Regions from separate parts of the Homo sapiens genome. Here region 1 is linked to region 2. A link means that fine-mapping ties the variant in region 2 to the expression of a gene that starts in the linked region. Tissue or cell type: pancreas. Region 2 holds a variant in brackets; the other region holds the start of a gene. All regions are shown on one strand. Distances are from middle to middle. Region 1 holds the start of TATDN2 (TatD DNase domain containing 2). Region 2 holds the start of GHRLOS (ghrelin opposite strand/antisense RNA).

What was found.
Region 1: it holds the start of TATDN2, and the variant in region 2 is fine-mapped to the expression of TATDN2 in pancreas (GTEx, PIP above 0.99).

The regions. Positions count from the first base shown.
Region 1 is chr3:10,241,144-10,256,729 of GRCh38, reverse strand. It overlaps TATDN2 (TatD DNase domain containing 2), which reads right to left and starts at 8,271. Exons shown (of 8, transcript NM_014760.4): 1 at 7,663-8,271; 2 at 7,116-7,535. The coding sequence starts at 7,529. IRAK2 (interleukin 1 receptor associated kinase 2) reads right to left here. Exons shown (of 13, transcript NM_001570.4): 13 at 12,985-14,614. The coding sequence ends at 14,502. RefSeq lists an enhancer at 6,835-7,703 and silencers at 7,956-8,385, 14,105-14,174.
Region 2 is chr3:10,280,679-10,289,716 of GRCh38, reverse strand. GHRL (ghrelin and obestatin prepropeptide) reads left to right here. Exons shown (of 6, transcript NM_016362.5): 5 at 2,905-3,013; 6 at 3,823-4,051. The coding sequence ends at 3,842. GHRLOS (ghrelin opposite strand/antisense RNA) reads right to left here and starts at 8,765. Exons shown (of 6, transcript NR_073568.1): 1 at 8,715-8,765; 2 at 6,114-6,196; 3 at 3,864-3,969; 4 at 2,236-2,303; 5 at 1,615-1,715. LINC00852 (long intergenic non-protein coding RNA 852) reads right to left here and starts at 5,298. Exons shown (of 1, transcript NR_026829.1): 1 at 3,971-5,298. TATDN2 (TatD DNase domain containing 2) reads right to left here. Exons shown (of 8, transcript NM_014760.4): 8 at 8,499-9,038. RefSeq lists enhancers at 957-1,572, 2,438-2,732. The variant T/C (reference allele first, on the strand shown) is at 4,715.

The sequences.
Region 1 (15,586 bases), 36 kb after region 2:
ACACAGAGGGTGAGATCTGCAACAAACTGAGGAGTATCTGCACCCTCAGACGGGCAGCTGCTCCTCACCTCTAACTGGTGCCATTTGAGAGTAGAGAATCAGAGTTAGAGATTCTGTTTCTTTCAAGTAAAACCAGAAATATTGAATTTAGTGCACTTTTCAACCATTAAGCAAGCACTTACTAAGCACTTACTCTGTGCCAGCAGGCACGGTTCTGGACCTGTGGGTTTAGCGTTCAATAAAAAAAAAAACAAGGCTGGGTGTGGTGGCTCATGCCTGCAATTCCAGCACTTTGGGAGGCCAAGGCAGGAGGATCATTTGAGCCTAGGAGTTCAAGACCAGTCTGGGCAACATAGCAAGACCCCATCTGTACAAGAAAAATACAAAAATTAGCTGGGTGCAGTGACCCACACCTGTAGTCCCAGCTACTCCAGGAGCTGAGACAGAAGGATTGCTTGAGTGTGGAAGGTCAAGGTCACAGTAAGCCGAGCTTGTGCCACTGCACTCCAGCCTGTGGAGACGCTCCAAACTTTTGGAGACGCTGTCTCAAAAAAAAAAATAATAGTAATAACACACAAGAACGTCTGCCTCCTGGAGCTCACATTTTAGCTGGTAAGGGAAGGGAAAACCAGGAGAAAGGTAAGACAAGTGAAATATGTATGTTAGAGAGTGATAACTGCCAAGGAGAAAAACAAAATAAGAAAAGAGGACATAAAATGGGGAGGTGATGTCATTCAATTCTTCAGTTCAAGGTAGGGACTTAGACTGGAGTCATAAATTCTATTTTCTGAGACAGTCTCACTCTGTCGCCCAGGCCGGAGTACAGTGGCGCCATCTCAGCTCACTTACAACCTCCGCCTCTCAGGTTCAAGTGATTCTCCTGCCTCAGCCTCCTGAGTAGTTGGGATTACAGGCATGTGCTACCACACCCAGCTACATTTCGTATTTTTGGTAGAGACGAGGTTTCTCCATGTTGGCCAAGCTGGTTTTAAACTCCCAGCCTCAAGTGATCAGCCCACCTGAGCCTCCCAAAGTGCTGGGATTACAGGCATGAGCCACCGCACCCAGCCTGGAGTCATAAATTCTTAATGTGAATTGTCTCAAAATGTAAATACTGTTAAGGACCTAGCAGGCTACATCCAGTCCACAGACCAGCAGTTTTGCCACCTCTGGTTGTGAAGACCAAGACTGGAGTTGGGGGAGAAAAAAAAAAATTAGGAGTATAATAATATACCTTATATTTTCATACAGATTTACAATTTACAGAAGTGCTACAGCCGTCATACTTCTTTTACAGAAAGTGAAACTGCTACATGGCTTGTAAGTGGCAGAACCGGGATTCAAACTCAAGTTCTCCCTAACATCCTGGAAGCCAAGGGAAAGGAGTAATGAAATATGAAAGTGAGAAACACTGTTGGCTGGGCATGGTGGCTCCTGCCTATAATCTCAGAACTTTGGGAGGCTGAGGCAGGCAGATCACTCGAGCCCACAAGTTCAACACCAGCCTGGGCAACATGGCAAAAAAACCCCTCTCTACAAAAAATACAGAAAAATTAGCTGGGCATGGTGGTGCACGCCTGTAGTCCCAGCTACTTGGGAGGCTGAGGCAGGAAGATCACCTGAGCCAGGAGGTCAAGGATGCAGTGAGCCAATTGCACCACTGCACTTCAGCCTGGGTGACAGACAGGAAAGGAGGGAGGGGGAGGGGGAGGGGGAGTGGGAAGTGGGAAGGAGGAAGGGGGAAGGGGGAAAAAAAGAGAGAAAGTGAGAAACACTCTCCTAGGCTGGAGGACCTAAGATGGATCAACGACACCGAGGATGAGTTTCAGCAGGTGACAGTTGGCTCTAAAGGTAAGAAGTAGGTAGACCATGGGCAGAAGGTAAGAGACAAACCACCTGACTTCATAAAGGGGAGAGTTCGTTCTTCCTGGAAGCACTGCTTGGTGAACTGTGCATCTCCAAAGGAAAGAAGGAAAGATAAGTGGAGATGTTGCTCCAGCCCTATCACCAGTAGCCTGAAGGATTTCAACAGCTCCTCACCAGCTCCCTGTCTTCTCCCTCCTACCCTTTCTCTGCAGCGTGCCAGAGGAGCTCTAAAATGCAAACCCCACCACTTCAGCCTTAGTTTAGAACCCTTCCAGGGCTCCACATTTGCCTACAGAATAATCCCTACCCCTGAGCTCATCAGGAACCCTTCACAGACTGGCCCCAGCCTTCCTGTCTAGCCTCATCTCCTGCCTTCCTCCAAACACGCAAGTGTCCAGGGAACGCAGGAGAGCACGGATGAGAGAAGGGAGGGCCAGCAGTGCCCCAAGCACTCCAGACAAGCAGCATTTCCTGACATTTTGGGCATGTATTGCTCCCTATGCCCGAAATGTCCTGTCCCCCTCCTTGTCCATCAGTAAGACTCAGATGTCACCTCTTCTGTGAGGACCTTCCTGATGGTCAGTCGCTCATTCCCCTGACCCTTGGGTACTCCAAACCCATCCCTGTTACAGCTCTCCACTCACTGCCCCGTGGTGAGTGACTTCTCAGTCTGTGAAGCATGGCCCGATTGTCCTTGGCAACAACAGCCCCAAGCCTGGTGTTCCACGTGTGCACTAGACATGTGCCAAGTGGAGATGCAGGAAAGGGGATGTGCAAAAGCTCTATCACTCAAGAGCCTCAATACCCAGTGCTTTACTGTGCCTGGGCTAACTCACCCTGCAGAGAGCTCCGCAAGGGAGGGACCCTGGCACCTTCGTCTTGCCACCCCTACATCTGATGCCAGGCTAGAACAGAGCAGGTGCTCCCAGAGGCAGCAGTGCAGAGAACACTGGCTTTGAAGTTGGACTAATCTGATATTACCCCACAGCTCGGCCATTTACCAGCTGCATGGCCTTGGTCAGCTTATTTAACCTTTCTGAATCTCATCTGCCCAGTGCCTACACAGAGTAGGTGCTTAAATATTTGTTAATTGATATGAAGGTATTTACTAATGGATATGTGGAGATAATACCACCTACTTCACGACACTTTTGGGATTATGTGATAGTCTATAGATCAAACATCGAGAATCATAGTTGACCAAGCCTTATCATACATGCTCAAATTTTCCCTTCCATTCTTTCAACTCTAAATTGAATGTAGACATTTAGATGTCATAGTAAAAATAATCTTTACTACATGAAGGTGCTCGTCACACAGTTAGTCTCCTCTGTGAAGAGTAAATGAAGATCATCAGCTAACATGAAACATCTCCAACTGTCCTGGAGGTAAGAAGGGAACGATGTGAGGTCAGCCAGCAGGGATCTCTACCGATTCTAAAATGACCAGTCTAACACCTTCCCCTCAGAATATTCTGTGACCTGGCACAGAGAAAGATGTGTTAAAGGCTGGTGGGAGAAGGGAACAAAGTCAACTGTGTAACCCTCAAAGTTTACAGAGCAAGGCCAGGCACAGTAGCTCATGCCTGTGATCCCAGCACTTTGGGAGGCCAAGGTGGGAGGACTGCCTGACCCCAGGAGATTGAGACCAGCCTGGTCAACATAGGGAGACTCTTGTCTTTACAAAACACAAAAAATTAGCCAGGCAGGCCAGGCGCGGTGGTTCACGCCTGTAATCCCAGCACTTTGGGAGGCCTATGCAGGCGGATCACGAGGTCAAGAGATCGAGACCATCCTGGCTAACATGGTGAAACCCCATCTCTACTAAAAATACAAAAAAATTAGCCGGACATGGTGGCGTGCACCTGTAGTCCCAGCTGCTGGGGAGGCTGAGGAAGGAGAATGGCGTGAACCCGGGAGGCGGAGCTTGCAGTGAGCCGAGATTGCACCACTGCACTCCAGCCTGGGTGACAGAGCAAGATTCTGTCTCAAAAAAAAAAAAAAAAAAATTAGCCAGGCAGGTTGGCACACGCCTGAGTTCCACCTACTTGGGAGGCTGAGGCAGGAGGATCGCTTGAGCCCAGGAGGTTGAGATGCAGTGAGCTATGATCATGCCAGTGCACTCCAGCCTGGGTGACAGAGCAAGACCCTGTCTCAAACAAAAAAAAAAAGTTTACAGAGCAGACACAGGAGAGCAGTGAGAGGACTCTAGAAGGACCTGAGGATGAACATGCCATTTTTGTGAGTACCCCTCGGCTGTGCTTGCTGAAGGACTTAGGACCAGGACAGATAAGTTCACAGATGACCACAGAGCAAGGGAGGAAGAGGTACAGATGAAGGTGGAAGGTAAGAGGTGTTTTGTAATTCATCAAGATGAGTCAAGTACTGTACACTTGGTTTTTAAACTGACAAACATATACTCCAGGAAGAGACTTCAGCAGTCCTAGAGATGGACAATCAGGGTAATATAAAAACCCTCACTCGACAAGAGTGATCTTTCTACAATGCAATTTCCTTTTCTGTGTAGAGCCCTGTATAAATTCTCTAATTGCTTAGAAGACAATCCAGCTGGCACAGTGGCTCATGCCTCTAATCCCAGCGCTTTGGGAGGACAAGGCAAGAGGACAGCTTGAGCCCAGGAGTTTGAGACCAGCCTGGGCAACACAGTGAGATCTTCATCTCTACAAAAAAAAAAATTTTTTTTTTTTTTTTTTTTTGAGACTGAGTCTCACTCTGTTGCCCAGGCTGGAGTGCAGTGCCTTGATCTCGGTTCACTGCAAGCTCTGCCTCCTGGGTTCATGCCATTCTCCTGCCTCAGCCTCCCAAGTGGCTGGGACTACAGGCACCCGCCACCATGCCCGGCTAACTTTTTGTATTTTTAGTAGAGAAAGGGTTTCACCGTGTTAGCCAGGGTAGTCTCAATCTCCTGACCTCGTGATCTGCCCACCTCGGCCTCCCAAAGTGCTGGGATTACAGGCGTGAGCCACCACGCCCAGCCCAAAAAAAAAATTTTTAATCTGCAGGGTGTGGTGGCACATGCCCATATTCTCACCTATTTAAGAAGATTGCTTGACCCCAGGAGTTTGAGGCTACAGTGAGACATGATTGCGCCACTGCACTTCAGCCTGGGAAATCGTTTCAAAAAAATAAAATAATTTTTTTAAAATAAGAATACAATTGGCCGGGCATGGTGGCTCACACCTGTAATCCCAGCACTTTGGGAGGCTGAGGCGGTCAGATCACTTGCAGTCAGGAGTTAGAGACCAGCCTGGCCAACAAGGCGAAACCCCATCTCCACTAAAAATACAAAGATCAGCTGGGCACGGTAGCGCACACCTGTAGTCCTAGCTACTTGGGAGGCTGAGGCAGGAGAATTGTTTGAACCCAGGAGGTGGAGGCTGCAGTGAGCAGAGATCATGCCACTGCAGTCTACCTTGGGTGACACAGTAAGAATCTGTCTCAAAAAAAGAGAATACAATTCTAAGGGAATTGTCCCTTAGAATAAAATCCATTGTCCTTAGGATAAAATCCAAATTCCCTTGGCTACTAAAACCTTGCTGCAATCCACCCCCTACCTCGCTCTCCAGCCTCCATTCTGGGCTCACTACTCCATCATACCACATTGTGGGCAGTCATGCGACCACTCCTCCAGCCCTCCCACCAGACTGCTCCCTAGAAGCTCATCACTCCCAGACCCAACAGTGCGTGGCCCACAATAACCCTCAAGTGCTTCTACTGAAACCATTAAATTGGGTTCTTGCAAAACAAGGCCCCTTTAGCCTTAATGAGAGAAAGGTGGGTCCACCTACAATTAGACCCACCCAGATTAGAGACCACACCCTCAAACCTGAGTTCCAGGTCTTTAGGACAGCCAGGGATTCAGCACACCTGAAAGACTATGTAAAGTAAATTTCCTGCCTCTCCCAGTAACAGGTTTCACTCTATCTACAAATTGTCAGTGAAGCTAAATTGAATCAACTGGTATTATTTTATGCTGTACCCAAGTCTACTGAAATTGTATCAAGGATTAATGGCAAGATTAACTTGTATGAGCAAAGTCCCATACTTACCTGATTTGAGACAAATTCAGCATTCCTACGCTAGAGACAGGGCTTTTCAACTCACTGTTATTTGTGAATTTAAAAAGAAAAAATCCACGTGCCCACACAAGAGTTCAGACAGTGAGGTCCACATTGAAAAAACCAGGGGCACTTAGCCTATGAGTCCCCAAGACAAACAGTCAAATACAGCCTCCTTTCTCAGCTACACAAAAGAAACCACCAAGGCTAGGCTTAAAAACAAACACATATTCCTTAGGGCCTGTTTTAATTGCTTTTGTAAAGTAATTTTCTCTAGAGGCAGCCCATCTGATCCCAAATAAGACTGTTTCTCCACTCCTCCACAGGCAGAACTTCTCACTTCTTAAGACTCAGACCTTCAAAATCTAGGATGCAAACTCTAAGGGGAAAGTGATCTGTTTTGTTAGTAAAGAATCCCAAACACCTAGAACATTGCCTGGCACAAACTAAACCCTCAACACATATTTGTTCAAAGCCTTGATTGAGTAGATGAGCGAAATGTATCTTCTCTGTGAAGCACTCCTTGGTCTGCTCAAAGTACTTATGAAACCCTCTTGCATGTTTCCATTAGGGAATTAACAATTTAACCTCCAAAAAAAAAAGAAAAAAAAAAAAAACTAGCACCACCAAGCAAAACCCCAACATGCTGGAAACTATGACTTTGGAGAAAAGCTACACCAAGAACCGCAATTCTTGGTTCTGTGATTCAGAGTGGTTCAAAGTACAAGGGCACACAATTCTTTAAACTGACAACTAAAATAAATACATTCTTCTCTTGAGCACATAATCCACCTTCTACTGCAGTGATTCTCCAACGGGGCTGCACGTTTACAATAACCTGGGGAGCACTGAAAAATCTGGAAGCCCAGACCACACCTCAGCCCAATAAATCAGTTTCTCTGGAGTAGGAGGCAGGCCCAAGTATTTTAAAGCTTTCCAAGTAGTTCCAAAGTGCTGCCGAGTTTGAAAATTACCTCTCTACTTAACTTCAGGCCACGCGCCTGGAAGACTGCTAGGTCTTCGAGTTTGGGGGGAGTGGACTTCTAGAAAGACCTTCCAGACCTTCAAGGATGTAATGTTTTGTAGTCTCCTTCCACCAAAATTCCCATCCCCAACCTCTCAAGCCATGTGGAAGGGGCTTCACCGATTGCAAAGCGTGGCAGCCACCTACCTTAAGGCTGCAGGCTTCCTCCTCTAGAGAAGCCATTTCTTCCAAAGAGGCGTTGGCAGGACGCAGAGGGGATCCCCCTGAAGACAGGAACCCCCGAGTGTTCCGAATCAGGCAGCCTTTGGAGGCGGCCCCGCCCACACCAGGGCCCAAGAAATGTGGGGAGAAGGAGGAGGAGGAGTTATTTCTGCGGCGGGATGAGCCCCAGGATAACCTCCGCGAGCAAGCCACATCGTCCTCCTTCTGGGCTTTCAGGCGCTTGGGGCTGCTGGGCCCTCCAGAACGCGACGCAGACCTCTGAGCTGGCCGGCTGGAGGGGGCCACATCACAGGGCTCCCGGAGGCAGCTGCGCTTGCGGGGACACCCTTCCGACGTGCTGCTCCAGTTGTGCTTGACCTTGCCCCGCTCGGACGCCATGGGCACCTGCAAGGTACAGGGGGCCTGGATTCCAACACCACCCTTCCTGGCGACCCCACCTCAGATTCCCGCCACCCCGGGCCCAGGAGGACGGCAAGACATAAGGGCAGAGCCAGGGGCTAGCCTCACTGACCTTTCCCTCTTCTTTCCACTGCCCATCACAGTTCTCAAGGTTTCAGAGATGCCAAACCGTGTTGGAGAAGTCAAAGCGATCCAAAATTGACTAAAGGCTGCCGTCGGTTTCCAAGCCCACAACGTGCTTCTGAGATCAGGAAGCCTTCACTTTGCCCAGCGCTACTTCGGAGATGCCTAAGCGCTTCCGGGGCTACGAAGCGCTTTGATCAGTTTGCAATATAAAGCCCTTTAGAACTGTCAAGCGCTTCAGAAGACCACATGGCGCTTCAAGATCCACACATGGCTGCCGGATCCGCGGCCCCGGGGCCGGGCGCTTAGCCCGTAGGCCAGGGCCAGACCCGGGCGCCGCAGCCCGCCCTGCTCCTGCGGCCCAACCAGACCCGGGCCGGAAGGGGCCCGAGCGGCCCCTCGGGAGCTGGCAGCGCCCTCGACCGCCAACTCAGGACGCCCCCCGCCGGCTGCCGCAGCTGTCCCGCCGGGCAGCCCGCCGCCTGCCCCAGCCCTACAGCCCCGCCTGGCCCGGCCTCCGCCCGAACTGCGACCACTCCGGCCTCCGTGGCGCCCGCCCTCCGGAACGAGCCCTGCGGCCCGCAGGCCGGAGAGCGACAGGGGCGGGGCCTGCGCCAAACGGAAGGCGCCCATTGCTCGACCCGGCAAGGGGCGGGACTCCGAGCAAGACGCAGCCCGCCTCAAAGCCAGGCGCCTTGGAGTCGGGACGGTACGCCTTAGGAAGCTCGTCCATTGGTCAGAAGCCAGATGGGGCGGAGCCACTCACGTGGGCTCGAACAGCGGGAAGTTGAGGCCAGCCAGATGTGCAGGCAGGTGGTGTCCGCTGACGCGCCTCACTTAACGCTGTTTTCCTCAGCGCCGGCCGCTGTACCTGAAGCTTTCAGACCTGGATTTCTCATCGAGCCAAAGCAAACCGTGTACTGAGCATTATCACCCCACTTTATAGAGCAGAAAACTGTGGCTCAGAGAGACTAAGTACACACCCAGAAATGGGAAGAATTAGAATTAGAAGGCACCAAAAAAAAAAAAAAAAAGACTACACAAAAATGTGAACTATCCGCCTGGTGAAAAATATTAAAGACGGCTGGGCACGGTGTCTCACGCCTGCAATCTCAGCACTTTGGAAGACCGAGGCGGGAGGATGGCTTGAGCTCGGGAGTTAGAGACCAGCCTGGCCAGCATGGTGCGACCCCCATCTCTACAAAAAATAAAATTAGCTGGGCGTGATGCCAGCTACTCAGGCTGAGGTGGGAGGATCACTTGAGGCCGGGAGGTCGAGGCTGCAGTGAGCTGTGATCCCGCCACTGCACTCCAGCCTGGAGGACAGAGCAAGACCCTGTCTCAAAAAAGAAAAAAAATCAAAGACAAGGTACAAATTCAGAAAAATACTCGAAACATATGACAAAGGGCTGATATTCGATGTAGCAATTCTCCCAAAATAATAAAATAACTTAGTATTAAGACTGGCAAAGGAGGCTGGGTCCAGTGGCACACGTCTGTAATCCCAGCACTTTGGGAGGCCGAGGTGGGTGGATCTCTTGAGGCAAAGAGTTCGAGACCAGCGTGGGCAACATGGTGAAATCCTGTCTCTAGTGAAACACAAAAATTAGCCTGGTGTGGTGGTGGGCGCCTGTAGTCCCAGCTACTCAGGAGGCTGAGGTGGGAGGATCCCTTGAGCCTGGGAAGTCGAGGGTCCAGTGAGCCAAGATTACTGCCACTGCACTCCAGCCAGGGAGACAAAGTGAGACCCCTGTCTCAGGGAAAAAAAAAAAAAAAGGCAAAGGAAGCAATGAACAAAAACAAATCATGAAACGCTCCTAAATATAAGAAAGATGGCTCCACCTCAACCATTAAAAAAGTACATGTAAGGCCAGGTGTGGTGGCTCACGCCTGTGATCCCAGCACTTTGGGAGGCCAAGGCGGGCAGATCACGAGGTCAGGAGATCGAGACCATCCTGGCTAATACGGTGAAACCCCGCCTCTACTAAAAATACAAAAATTAGCCAGGCGTGGTGGCAGGCGCCTGTAGTCCCAGCTACTCGGGAGGCTGAGGCAGGAGAATGGCGTGAACCCAGGAGGTGGAGCTTGCAGTGAGCCAAGATTGCGCCACTGCACTTCAGCCTGGGTGAGAGACTCCGTCTCTAAAAAAAAAAAATTAATTAATTAAATTAAATTAAAAAGTACATATAAAATTATAATTTTCCACTCGTTAGATTGGCAATAATCAAAAAACAAGGTAAGGGGCCGGGTGCGGTGGCTCACGCCTGTAATCCCCGCACCTTGGGAGGCCGAGGTGGGTGGATCACGAGGTCAGGAGATCGAGACCATCCTGGCTAACATGGTGAAACCCCATCTCTACTAAAAATACAAAAAAAAAAACAAAAATTAGCCGGGCCTGGTGGCAGATGCCTGTAGTCCCAGCTACTCAGGAGGCTGAGGCAGGAGAATGGTGTGAACCCGGGAGGCAGAGCTTGCAGTGAACCAAGATCACGCTACTGCACTCCAGCCTGGGCAACAGAGCAAGACTCCATCTCAAAAAAAAAAAAAAAGCAGGATAATATACCTTGTGGCTGAGGATGTGAGGAAATGCACTCCCATACATCCCTGATGAACGTGTTAATTGATACAATCTCCTTGGAAGGTGGCATTGTCTGTAGTAGCTAGAATGAAAACAAAACCTCAATCTCTATCAGCTGGTTATATACATTAAGGAATATCCATACAATGGAATGTAAGGCAAAAAGAATGAAGTGATCTAAACTTACTGTTGAGGAGCAATAGCCAAGAAAGACATGAAAAAACAAAGGACCTAGAAAAGCATTAACAAAACACATGTGTGGCTAAATAGAGAGGAGTGGCATACAAAGGTAAATGTGGCTTTCTTTTTTCAAATGCCTGAGGGTAACCACTTTGTGTGTTCCTTTCTAACAGCTTTAAGATATAATTTATATACCATAAAGTTCACTCATTTAAAGTGTATGAGCAGCAGGCATGGTGGCTCACGCCTGTAATCCCAGCAATTTGGGAGGCCAAGGTGGGCAGATCACAAGGTCAGGAGTTCAAGACCAGCCTCAACAATATGGTGAAACCCCATCTCTACTAAAAAGAAATACAAAAATTAGTAGGGCATGGTGGCATGTGCCTGTAATCCCAGCTATTCAGGAGGCTGAGGCAGTAGAATCGCTTGAATCTGGAAGGCAGAGGTTGCAATGAGCCAATATCGTGCCATTGCACTCCAGCCTAGGCAACAGAGGGAGACTCTGTCTCAAAACAAAAAAGAAGAAAGAAAACAGGTGTATGACCAGCTGGCCTGGTGGCTCACTCCTGTAATTTCAGCAAGACTGTAATCTAGTTTGTCTTGATAGATTTGCCTATTCTGAAAAAATTAAAAATGGAATCATACAATATGTGACTTGCTTTTTCTTACCATGATCTCAAGGTTCATCCATGTTGTAACGTGTCAGTATGTTTGAAATGCTTGTTCCCCAGTGCCATAAAGAAATAGCACTTGAACATAAATAATTTTCTCAGCAAGGCCATTTTTACACTTTCTGCAGAAAGGGTACACTCGCCAGCAGTTTTGCCACGAGTACACCCAACAAAGGAGACAGGGTCATTTATAACCTGACGTATCCACCCTACCTCTGGGTCCAGTTTCCATTGGCTGAAACGGGACTTCACATTCTGTATTTGTCTTGATTGGCTAACAACTTAGAATTTTTTCAGAGGCAAAAGCAGAGGAGAACAAAGGAAGGAGGAAGTAACTTGTGGAATGCTGAGAAAGGTAAAAACACTTTCAAATAAGGAAGAGGAACAGGCTATGACTTAATGCTTGCTTGCACCAGTATAACCGTGCCAGGGCAAATATTTAGGCTAAATTGTGGGAGTTAAGAACATAAAGTACATTGATTTATTATGGCTAGCAGGTATTTAAGAATGTTAGGTCTTTGAATAAATTTTGCTTCTAAGAGAAGTTACTATTTATTCCTAATTAGATGGGGAGGAAAGTCTTTGAAGAGGAACCTCTACTTTACTTTTCACAAGTACTTAATTCTTTTCTATGGCTGAATATTCCATTGCATGAATAGACCGCATTTCATGTATCCACTTATCAGTTGATGGATATTTAGGTTGTTCCTATTTTTTGGCTGTTATAAACATTGGTGTGCAGGCTTTTGTGTGGACATGTTTTCATTTCTCTTGGGTAGATACCTAGGGGTAGAATTGCTAGGTCATATGGAAATTCTTACCTTTTGAGGAAGTGCCAAACTGTTTTCCAAAGTGCTCACCATTTTCAATTCCCACCAACAGTGTGTGTGGGCTCCAATTTCTCCACATCATGGCCAACACTTGTTTTTGTCTTTTTGATTATAGCTATCCTAGTGAATGTGAAGTGGCATCTCATAGAGGTCTTGATTTGCATTTCCCTGATGACTAAGTTGAGCATCACCTCTGTTTTCCATCACCTCTGGAAGGATACTCCAACCTAGTGACAGTGGTTGCCTTTGGGAACAAGAAACTGGAGACTAAGATCCCATTGAGAAAAAGCCTGCCTTCTCACCATGGAACCTTTGTACTGTTTAGATTTTTAAATCCTCTATTAACCTAAAAAAAAATAATTCAGGGCTTCCCTACGGGGGATCCATGAAAAGACATCATGGTGCCCATGAAGGTCTGGAATTCATGGACTCAGAACGCATATGTATGTATGTCTGTATGTAGCAAAGGTCTAGAGCTTTCATCCAAGTCCCAAGGGGATTTACTGACTTCTCCAAAAATATATGAAATCCTAGTCTAGAAATGTAAGTATGTCTGGATAACCACAAACCTATTGGTGTCAGCCCTCTATTGCGCAAACAGCCCTGGAAACACTCTGCTTATAATTGTAAAGTGTTCGCAACAGGCCAGGTCCCATTTGGGGCACAAAATGCACATTCACCTTGAATCCTCACAGACACCAGAGCTGAAGACAGGGCTGTCTGTATAGATCACTGTCCACCTGGACTGGGACCCAGCTCAGCTACATCACACATCAAGCCAAAGCTGTCCTTACTGGGGAGCTGCCAAATGTTTCACCAGGCAGGACCCATCCAACAACAACCCTACAAGATGCGTACGTTTTCTTTTTCCCATTGTACAGATGAGGAAACAGAGCCTCAGAGTAACTCCCTAACTGGGCCCAAGATCATGCAGCTATTAACAGTCAACAGTAAGAGCCAGGATCCTAGCTCTTTGCTACCCCATCTCAAGGATACAGAGTGCCTTCTCTAAACAAATTCTTCCAGACACAAAACTAATTACAAGTTGTCTGTCGACTTTACAAATATATTTTTATTATATAAAAAGAAATTACTATAGATTACTTTAAATAGGATATTTCTCCCAGTGAATTTAAAATAGCATCTGTTTCACAGAAAGATTTGCAACATGACTTTTCAGATATATACGCACTGAATAATCATTAGGTACATGGCAGAAATACACATTTAATACCTTTTTATTTTACAAAACAGGACAAGTGCATTTTCCAAGTGCTTCTATAGCCACTGTCTCATCTGTTCCTCCCAACAGCCCAGGGATGAAGAACAAGCAGGTGTTATTTTACTTACAAAGAAACTGAGGTCCCAAAAATTAAATGATTGACTTAATTAGCAGCAGAATCAGACATGAAATGCATTCTCCTGATTCTTCATAATCCAGTCATAAATAACAACACATATTCTCGGCCGGGTGCGGTGGCTCAAGCCTGTAATCCCAACACTTTGATAGGCCAAGGCGGGCAGATCACGAGGTCAGTAGTTCGAGACCAGCCTGGCCAATATGGTGAAACCCTGTCTCTACTAAAAACACAAAAATTAGCCAGGCATAGTGGCAGGTGCCTACAGTCCCATCTACTCAGGAGGCTGAGGCAGGAGAATCACTTGAACCTGAGAGGCAGAGCTTGCAGTGAGCTGAGATCGTGCCACTGCACTCCAGCCTGGGTGACAAAGTGAGACTCTGTCTCAAAAAACAAACAAACAGACAAACACATATTCTCAGAATAAAAGCTCCATTAAAAAACACTAACATTAGTGGGATGGGAAGATAAAGGTACCAGGCAGTGACTGAATAATTATGTGAATTGCAAGATTTCCAATACAGGCAGTGGAAAGCCTGCAGAGCTCTTCGCTAGGTGTCTGGCATTTGTAGAACCTGAGGCCCAGAGAGGTGAGTCAAGAACTGCACTGAGACACAAGTTGAAAGTCTTCCAGGCCAGGCACAGTGGCTCCCAACTGTAATTCCAGCACTTTGGGAGTCTGAGGTGGGAGGATTGCGCCAACAAAGCGAGACCCCATCTCTACAAAAAAATTAAAAACTAAAAAAAATCTTTCAGAGCATGCAAGCTTGCAGGCTGTCAGCAAATACAACCCAGAGATCTTAGCTCTGGAAAATGCTATGGCATTGCAGAACTGCCAGTGGCGGGGGAACAAGAGCTGCTGAGGTAATGGAATCTGCTGGGGGTGATTATCATCACATACTCCCCGGAACCACAAAATCAGCCACATCCTGGGCCCGTGTGCAGGGTTTCTGCTTCAGTCTCCTCTGATCCCCTGCTCTGACTAACAAAGCCCAGAAAGGAAGAGACTTCATGGATTTTTGTGTCTCTAAAAGCTGAGGGCCTTTCTCTCCCAACTCATTCCAGTGAAATGAAGTTTCCCTCCCACCCAGGACAGCAGATGTTTTGTTGTGTGTTTCCTGGCAGATCTTGGATTCTGCCTCAGACCTTTTTCTTGATCTGATGCTCATCTTTCCAACTGAGGACAAGGGTCCTCAGCTGTGTTCCGGTCATCAGGGGCCAAAGAGCTCAATGCTGTCCACTTTTTCCTCTTTGTAGAGCAGAATATTCTCCATCAGTTTCCTTTTGGCCTCATTGATCTCAATTTGCCACGAAGTTTCTGTAACTGATGTTCAACAGAAAGCAAACAAGAGCGACTTGAATGAAAGTTACTATTATTATAATTCTTAAAGTCACTTAAATCAGGTTTCTGAATCAGGCCCTGAGTGTAATGAGCATTTCTTTTTTTTTTTTTCTTTTTTTTTTATCGAGACAGGGTCTCACTTTGTTGCCCAGGCTGGAGTGCAGTGGCACAATTTCAGCTCAAGGCAACCTTGACCTCACAGGTTCAGGTGATCCTCCCACCTCAGTCTCCGGAGTAGCAGGGACTACAGGCGTGCACAACCACACCTGGCTTTTTTTTTTTTTTTTTTTTTTTTTGAGATGGAGTCTCACTCTGTTGCTCAGGCTGGACGACACACACAGTTAATTTTTTTGTGTTTTAGTAGAGAAGGGGTTTCACCGTGTTGCCCAGACTAGGCTTGAACTCCTGAGCTCAGGCAACCCACCCGCCTCGGCCTCCCGAAGTCCTAGGATTACAGACAGGCGTGAGCCACCACGCCCGGCCTGTGAGCCACAGCACCCAGCCCATTTATTTATTTATTTATTTATTTATCATTTGTTGAGATGGAGTCTCACTCTGTTGCCCAGGCTGGAGTGCAGTGGCTCAATCTCGGCTCACTGCAACCTCTGCCTCCTGGGTTCAAGCAATTCTCCTGACTTAGCCTCCTGAGTAGCTGGGATTATAGGCGCCCACCACCACGCCCAACTAATTTTTTGTATTTTTAGTAGAGACGGGGTTTCACCATCTTAGCCAGGATGGTCTCGATCTCCTGACCTCGTGATCCGCCCGCCTCAGCCTCCCAAAGTGTTAGGATTACAGGCGTGAGTCACCATGCCTGGCTGGCCACACCTGGCTAATTTTTGCATCTTTCGTAGAGACAGGTTTTCACCATGTTGCCCAGGCTGATCTTTATACTCCTGGGCTCAAGCAATCAGCCCACCTCGTCCTCCCGAAGTACTAGGATTACAGGTATGA
Region 2 (9,038 bases):
GGGGTCAGGGGAGAGGGAGGGCAGGGAGAGGTGGCAGTGAACAGGGTCCCAACTACAAGCTCCCCAGAACTATAAAACCAGTACCACAGGAGTTGAGCTCTGCCCTGGGCTCTGTGAGGTCTTTACCCATTAAGAGAAAAATATCTAGAAGAAGTAACTTTGCTACAACAGAATAGGGACGGAAGGAGCCTGGGCAGAGGAGAGAGGGTGCCAGAGCCTCCAGGCGACTCAAAGGGGACAGAAAATACAGTGCCCAGAGACAAAGACACCCAGAAATAAACGGCAGGCCCAGACTGAAGATGTTGCTCTGCAGAAAACCATGTTTTACTCAGGGGCTTCCAGGGCCTGGACTGTGGGGTGGAGTGCTTCCGAACAGCACCCTGGATGGGAGGGCTGGCGCCAGCCCAGGCTCCGGCACCCACTCACCTCGCCTGGAGGCAAGGAGGGGGCAGGTGTGGGTGATGTGCTCTGACAAATCGTGCGTGGGGCAAGGAGAAAGTTAAGACAACCCAAGGATGGAGAGGAGGAGGGAGTAAAGGATTTTACGGGGTTTTCTATGCAACCTTCCTGTGGCTGTGGTTCAGGGAATGGTTTCTTCTAAATATTTGGTTGGTGACACCATTTCGCAGCTAAGGCAGGATTCCCCCAAGGTAGCACTTAATAATGGCAGCTATTAGACGCTGTGCCCGAGGATACCAACTTCACCTCTAACTGCCCCACCTCCTCCCTACGACAACCTGTGAGGTAAGCAGGGCTGGCATTACTCCCACTTTAGAGCCAAGGAACAGTTCAGAGGTGAACTCACTTGCCCAAGGTACCACAGCGGTGTGTGGAAGGGACGCGACACAAGGTCAGGGCTGACTCCAGTCCCCAAGCCCTCTTCCTCCTCACTGGTCTGATGGACAGAGACAGCGCACAGTGGCCCAGGGGAGGCCTCTTCCTTCCAGAGGAGTGAAATGTGCCCGCCTTGGCCTCTGCCTGCCTGTTTACCATACTCTTCTCCAGTCGAGGAATAAAGCCGTCGGAAGCTCCCCCAGCCCCTGCTCGCTTTCATCCTCACCAGCACCTGGCGGTGTTCAGACCTTTCCTCTACACGGTGGGATCCACTAGATTCTCATCTGAAAGAGCTGCATACCCTTAGGCCAAAACCAGGATATTTTGCTGGTGAGACGGCTAGCTCCACACATGGTCATCCCAGCCAGAGGAGCTGCCCAGTACCCAGATGAGAAAGAGGTCTTGGTGGCTGACGACGCAAGGTGGGGCTGGTACAGCGGGAACTTTGCAGTTTCTGTGAAAGCTAGCCTTGGAGCATGTGACCCACACTGCCTTGGCTGGAACCAGAAGTCAAACGCCTGGGGGGTGTTGGGGCTGCCAGAAGAGGAGTGGCTGCAGAGACCTGGAGCGCCCCACTACCAAACCCCTCACAACCGAGTGTCCCACCCACCTCTCTCATCTCAGGCCCCTCTACCTCCCCCCAAACGTTTCCCTCCCAAAATCAAGTTTCAGAGTAGAAGACTTTGGAGACCAAGTCCCACTCCCATTGAACAGATGGGCCACTGAGGCCAGGAGGGAAGCTGCCCCCCACCAGCCAGCACTGTGTCACCACTCACTTGCCTGCACCACAGCGCCAGGTGTTAGGCCAGGCCAGCAGTTTCCCAGACCGGTGCTCCTGTTTCCTAAGATGTCTGCCAGGTGATCAGCCACCCCGCATTTGCCTCAGCGGTGGAAGAAAAACAAGTATTTACTGGAGGGAATGGAAGGCCCCAACTCTCCTTAAAAAAAAAAAAAAAAAAAAAAAAAAATTCAATCATGTCATTCCCCACTGGGTCCACCTTCATGGTGGAGTTAAGGGGAGGGAGATTTCGAAAAGGGAACGCATAGCTATTGGTTAATAGCTTCTCTGCGCCTCTGTCCTCACCTGTAAAATGGGCACAGTGGTAGCGCCTACCCCACAGGGAGGCACTGAGGACGCCTGGCCTCACACAGAGGAAGGGCAATAGGACTAAAGCAGTTTTCAGGGCCAAGTGGGTTTAAAAGTCCTGCATTCTAGTCCTTGGCCTCCAACTCCTTGGGCTTCTACTGTGAGGACCAAATGACCCAGCACTAAGATCCTTCCCTGACTCAGATAAGTCAGTGCCCAATATGGCCAGGCACCGAGGTAGCCACTGGCAGAGACAATCTCTGCTCTCAAGGAAAGTCTGCCATGTGGCTGCAGCAGAGCTCCTTCCCACTTACCCAAAGCTTTGAGCTCCAATAAATCATCTCAGGAATACCTGGAAAATGGAAGAGATGAGGCGCTCTCCCTGTAGAGGGGAAGAAATGGAAGCACAGAAAGGACTTGGCTCAGAGCCTCTTTCTAGGAAAACATCAACTTCCTTTTGATTTTCCAGGCATCAAAGAAAGGTCTATGCATATGAGAGAAAAAATACCTAGGGAAGGAGAAAAAGGAGAAGAAACAGACAAGAGAGAAAGGAGAAAGAGCTGGGAGCAGGGAAGGAATAGAAGGCCAGCAGGCCAGTGCTGAGAATGCTGGGCAGACCCCCTGCCAGGGCCTGAAATGCTGCCATTGGTGACTCAACCTTTTGTCTTCAAAACTGCAAGGGAGAAAAAAAATCTCACACTAGGGGGCACCACAGCTTTTATCAGCAATCCCATTAGAGGCTAAGGCTGAGAGGCATGAGAGTGCAAGGTAAGTGTCTGAAAGATGGTGAGTGGGAAGGTGAGCTGTGGTCCTGAGAAAGGAAGAGAACCTGGCTGAGGTGTCACTCAGCAGTCCCTGCTGGGGCCCAAAGGCCATTCTCCCTCTCCACTCCTGAAGAGAGGCAGAGAGCCCAGAGCCCCCTTTGAGATGGGGATGGGCATGACCTCTGACATCTCCTGGGTCCTCCCTGCCCTGCCTCCTAGTTCAACGCCCCCTTTGATGTTGGAATCAAGCTGTCAGGGGTTCAGTACCAGCAGCACAGCCAGGCCCTGGGGAAGTTTCTTCAGGACATCCTCTGGGAAGAGGCCAAAGGTGAGTCCTGCCTGGACTGGGTTTGCTCGGTTTCCTTGCAGCCCCACATGGGAGTTCACTCTGTGGGTGATGAGTTTTCCCCAACCTCTGCCTCTCCAAAAGAACTTCTAATTTCCCTTTCCCAAAGATCTGCAGGATAGTGGTTGGCTAGTATTTGTGAGTGGCTCAGAAGGGAGTTCATCATAGTCTTTGTGTTCAAAGAATGTTCTAAGAACTAGTACATTAACTAGCTTTGGGGCCTCAGTTGAACCTCAGCTTCCTTAACTGTAAAATGGAGCTATTTTACCTATTGTGAGAGTCTACAATTATTTGGTGTTACACCGTCTTCACTGCGTAACTTTACTCCACAAACAAAAAGGAATTGGTGCCAAAATAGCACTCAGAACAGGTTCTGCAGCCTGTTAAGCAGTTCCTTCAAATATTAGAGCTTCCTGAGTTAAGCAAAGGGTTTGCTTTGAATCCCCTCACCTTGTAAAAGAAAAAAAAGAAACCGCCCAACTGATTGAGGTGGCAGAAACACCTGCACATCTGCAAAGCACTGTCCTCACCAAGGCGGTGACCCGTCACCCCTGGGGAACAGCAGGGGTAGCATTCACCCCGCTGTGCAAACGAGGAAACCAAGACTCAGAGCTTTGAGGTGACTTGCCCAGGGCACAACAGTCCACACTTGAGTGCCGCCCTCTGACTCCAAGGCCAGTGCTTCCCCACAACCCCCACCATTACATCCCACCTCCAATCTCACCACCGTGGAAGAAAAGCACTAGCAGGACGGTGCACCCAGCATTCTTACTCAACCTCTTGCTTTCCAGAGGCCCCAGCCGACAAGTGATCGCCCACAAGCCTTACTCACCTCTCTCTAAGTTTAGAAGCGCTCATCTGGCTTTTCGCTTGCTTCTGCAGCAACTCCCACGACTGTTGTACAAGCTCAGGAGGCGAATAAATGTTCAAACTGTATGCTGATGTTCCAAATGGGAATTTATTTCAAAGAGGAAAAGTTAATATTTTACTTTAAAAAAATCAAAATAATACAAATAAAAATAATTCTTGGTTTATGGTCTGTGGGAAGGGAATAAAAGGACAAGTAGCAAGGCCAATGTGCATGTTTAGAAAACCTAATCACACCAGCTCACTCAAGCAGAGAAGCTACTGCATGTGCATGCATTGTGTGGAATTAAGACTGGGTTTCTTAGAGAAGGAGGAGAGAAAGGGGGAGAGTAGGAGGGAGAGGGGAAAAGGAGGAGGGAGAGGAAGAGAAAGAAGAGATAAAGTGGGACTAAGAGAAAGAGGGAAGAGAGGAAGAACAAAGACACAGTTCCTTTAAACATCAGGGCTTCCTGAGTGCAAGGCTGCATTAACAGCTTATTAACAACCAGCCAGGGCTGTGTGGACAAAGAAACTTCAGGATGACATTATCGAAGCCAACATCCATTCAAGATTGGAGAGGAAGACAGGAATGCCCAAGAGTGAATCTGAAGTTAGACGTTAAGTGAGGTGCCCAATCACGGCTCTTGGGCACTGCTAGACAGCACTGAAAGAGCTGCATTCTCCTTCCTCCCTTCTCCACTACTGAGAAGGCCTGACAAAGCAAATGCCTCACATGGGCAAGGCTGGCCGTCGCCATGGTTCCCTTACTGATACCAGGTGGGATCCCCAAACATTCCCTCAACTCCAGTTCACAGCAGACACGAGCCTTGACTCTTA[T/C]GTTCCACAACTTAATTCCAGTTACGACACTGGTCTTCCCGGGGGAAGGCCACTCGGTCATGCCCACCTTAGCCTAAACATGTGGACTGACTTGACTGTAGGCAACGGATGGGACACATCGCTAAGGGGAGGGAAAGGCAAAGAACGAGGTGGCCCCAAAGAGCAGCACCACAGACTTGCCAATTCAGCCATCTGAGCGCTTGTGGGAAACATGCAGGAAGCCGTCTGCAGAGACAGTTGGGGTAATGCCCACACTCTGGAAAACCCCTACCACAGAGGGTGCTAGGAGCCGAGCGTCTCCCCAAGTAAAATTCTGGCCGCCACACATGCAGGCACTAACTACTGATCAGGTGCGGCAGGCAGACAGAAACCCAACTGCTCTCCCTCACATAGAAGCTGTGGTCTGTGAATGCCACCGTCATCCAGGGACTCTTAGAAATGTAGAATCTTGGGCAGCACCCCAGCCCTAATCTATCAGGATCTGCATTTTAACAAGATCCCCAGGCTACTTAGTAAACGGCTGATGGGAAATGGCTTAGAATCCCCTTCCCAGGCGTCACAGCACACTGCAGGCCCCCTACTCACCCCTCCACCCTCAGACAGCCATGCCCCTACCTCCCCAGGCACCTGGCACAAGTGGGTACAGAGATCAACACACTTGTCCTGGAACTTAACTGTCTCAGCTCTGTCACTTAGTTGGGATACGACCTTGATTATCACTAACTGCCCACAGCCCTCTTATCAATAGCTACAGAAGAGGAGCAAAGGCCCAATATGGCCAAAGTGGTCAGGAGATGGTTTCTTTTTGAGAAAGCACCACTGATTGGGCTTGGGAGAGGATGGGTACCAGGCTCTGGACAAATGCTGGTCACCTGATGCTTCCCCCACCAAAGACAAGAACTTACTTCTCTCTCAAAGAAATCACAAGCATTATTAACCGCCTGCCTGGGTCATTCAAATAGAAACAGATATTGCGCACCCACTATGGGCTGGGCACTCTCACCTGTGCCAGGCAACAAGGTGTAGTGCAAAGATCTGGGCTTTGGCCTCGGACCTGAATTTGGATACCAGCTCTGTGATCCAGGCCAAGACTGAATTTCTCAGGCTCCTCACATGTAAAATGCCTACCTTGCTGGGTTACTGCCAAGACTGAACATGAGGTCTCACATGAGCTGTAGCTGGCAAAGGGCCCGGCACGTAGCTAAGCATTCAATTACTACAGCAGCCAGCACTCACTGTCACACCCCTGATGTACACCAGGCACCGTGTTAAATGCTCATGCAGATTAATGTGATTTCACTTCATTTTCACAGCAAGCCTACTTATGAGGGAGAAAACTAAAGCTCAGAGAAATTAAGTAACTTTCCTAAAGCACACAGCAAGCACGTGGCCGACTCACAGCCAACGCCACAGGACTCAGGGGCTGCTTTTTCATCCGGTTCCACAGCCTCTCAGCCAGTGCAGCTTCCCTCGCTCTACTGCCTAGGATGAGAGAGGTTTCCATATTCATTCATTTTCCTTCAGAATACACTGGGTGAACTTGGTAGAGGGGTGAGGACAATTTCAAGTCAACAATGGGCAGAAATATAATTTATCAAAGAAAATGGTTGGAGGACACCCTTGAGAAAATGTATTATTTCAAACATGTTCCTGTATCAGCTTTCTTAAACCCACTCCTTTATGGATCGTTTAATGATACCACTGTAACTTGAGGGTCTCTAAAGTGGGGTGTATGTACCCCTAGGGTGAGCGAGCTATTTGCTGGAGAAAAAAATTCTCCTTGTGAAAAAACTTTTACTTTGTGTATAATTAGCATAAGAGCACACGTATTTAAGTTCTCATGCACTTATAGTTGTGTGTTCAGAAATCATCTTGAGAGAGTGCACAGAAAAGGGTTGAGACGCCTCAACTAAGCTACCCACCTTAATCTGAATCCACCTACAAATGTCACTGGCATTTGGGGGGCCGAGGCAGGTGGATCACCTGAGATGAGGAGTATAAGGCCAAACAGGCCAACATGGCAAAATCTCATCTCTACTTAAAATTTAAAAAAAAAAAAATTAGCCAGTCATGGTATTGGGCGCCTGTAGTCCCAGCTACTCAGAAGGCTGAGGCACGAGAATCACTTGAACCTGGGAGGTGGAGGTTGCAGTGAGCTGAGATCAGGCCACTGCATTCCAGCCTGGGCGACAGAGTGACACTCAGTCTCAAAAAAAAAAAAAAAAAAAAAAACCAAAACCAAAAAAAAATGTCACTGGCAAATGAGCACTTTTTAATACAGTGATCCTGAGAGGGACTGGCTGGCCACTAATCACCATCTTTGACAGAGTTTGCTTCTTTAATCACTGTACATTCCGGTGGCCATTTGCCCTTACTTTACAAAAATGAACAAAGCAAAATTAAGGTGCTGAAAGCAAACGATGAGTATCGGTCTCAAGCTTCCTATAGAAAGATGGAAAAACAACAGAAAAGCCAAGAACAGTCACAAGGACCATCACTGAGTGGACAAAGCCAACTGCACATTCAACTGTGAAGGAAATGAAACAAAGTTCAGGACGATGCCAAAAATACATAATCAATGATTGTATCTAAAAGATGAGGCAGCAACAGAGACTTCAAAGGTGTTCAGCATTCTTGGAAGGAAGAGAGCCTTTCTTTTTATGCGTAAGTTTACTTTTTTGGCCGGTGCACTTGTATTCAAGAATACCTTAGTACAAAATAGGAGGGCTGAGTGCAAGTAATGAAACAGAATTTCCTCCAGAGTTTACCCAGAGGCATCAGGAATTCACAGTCCAACGCCCACCATCCAACTGATTCATCAGTACCCCCAGGGACTAGATTTTTCTTCCTCCTACAGCCTTGAGCTGGAAACAAAAAAAAAACAAAAAAAAAAGAAAAGAAAGTACCTACATAGGTCAGAAAGAAGCAGTGCATCTGAGTTCCCAGACAGTAAAATTACTTAACACTCTAAGGCTGTAGAACTTTAAGAATTCTTTTCTGGGGGGAGGCGGGGGGAGGGGAAAGACAGAGTCTCGCTCTGTCACCCAGGCTGGGGTACAGTGCTGCGATCTTGGCTCACTGCAACCTCCACCTCCCGGGTTCAAGTGATTCTTCAGCTTAAGCCTCCCGAATAGCTGGGACTACAGGCGCGTGCCACCCCACCCAGCTAGTTTTTGTATTTTTAGTAGAAATAGGGTTTCACCATGTTGGCCAGCTTGGTCTCGAACTCCTAACCTCAAGTGATCTGTCCGCCCTGGCCTCCCAAAGTGCTGGGATTACAGAAGTGAGCCACCATGCCCGGCCGAACTTTAAGAATTCTTATATGCAGTTTAATTTTACAGAGAGCCACATAGATACTCAAGAAAGTCTCCAGCTGGCCGGGCGCGGTGGCTCACGCCTGTAATCCTAGCACTTTGGGAGGCCGAGGCAGGTGGATCACGAGGTCAGGAGATCGAGACCATCTTGGTTAACACGGTGAAACCCCGTCTCTACTAAAAATACAAAAAATTAGCCGGGCACGGTGGCAGGCACCTGTAATCCCAGCTACTTGGGAGGCTGAGGCATGAGAATGGCGTGAACCCAGGAGGCGGAGCTTGCAGTGAGCCGAGATAGTGCCACTGCAGTCTGGCCTGGGCAAAAGAGCAAGACTCCTTCTCAAAAAAAAAAAAAAAAGAAAGAAAAAAAGTCTCCAGCTACCTGGATTCTTGGGTTACAATGCTGGCCAACAACCAGACTAAACCACTGCATCACTCAGGTAAGTCTATACAAACACGGAGAGACTGGGTTGGCTAGAGGATCCATCACTTTATTTTCAGAAAAAGATGGCCAAAGAGGGGAAAAAATACAGAGGCATTCCCACAGCACAGTGAAAACAATTAGCCATCCAAAAAGCTGAATCAAAAACAATGCCAATCAGCTTTCACGCCCACACAGGTGAGGTTTCACTGTGCAACAGCACATAAATGATAATCTAAATCCTAGAGAGAAAAGTAGATAGCACCTTGTGCTTTTCCTTGGCAGGTGGATGGCACAGGCTTGGAGACTTCCATGTCATCTCCGCTTTTCCTCCTCTAACACAGGGCTGGTTGGTTTCACCTGCAGGCACTACTGACTTCAGGGCTTGCTGGAGAGGAGATGGTTGTGCTGCAGTTCACTTGGTGACTATAAACACTTTGATATGCTCGGCAGTCCCCCAAGTCTTCCAAGCAGGAAATCAGGTCCCCCCCGACTTCCCACATGGGCCAATCTGCAGCACAGACAACATAACAGCACAGCTAATCCGTGAAGACGGACAGTGAATCAAGGCTGAGTTCCAGGCCAGTGA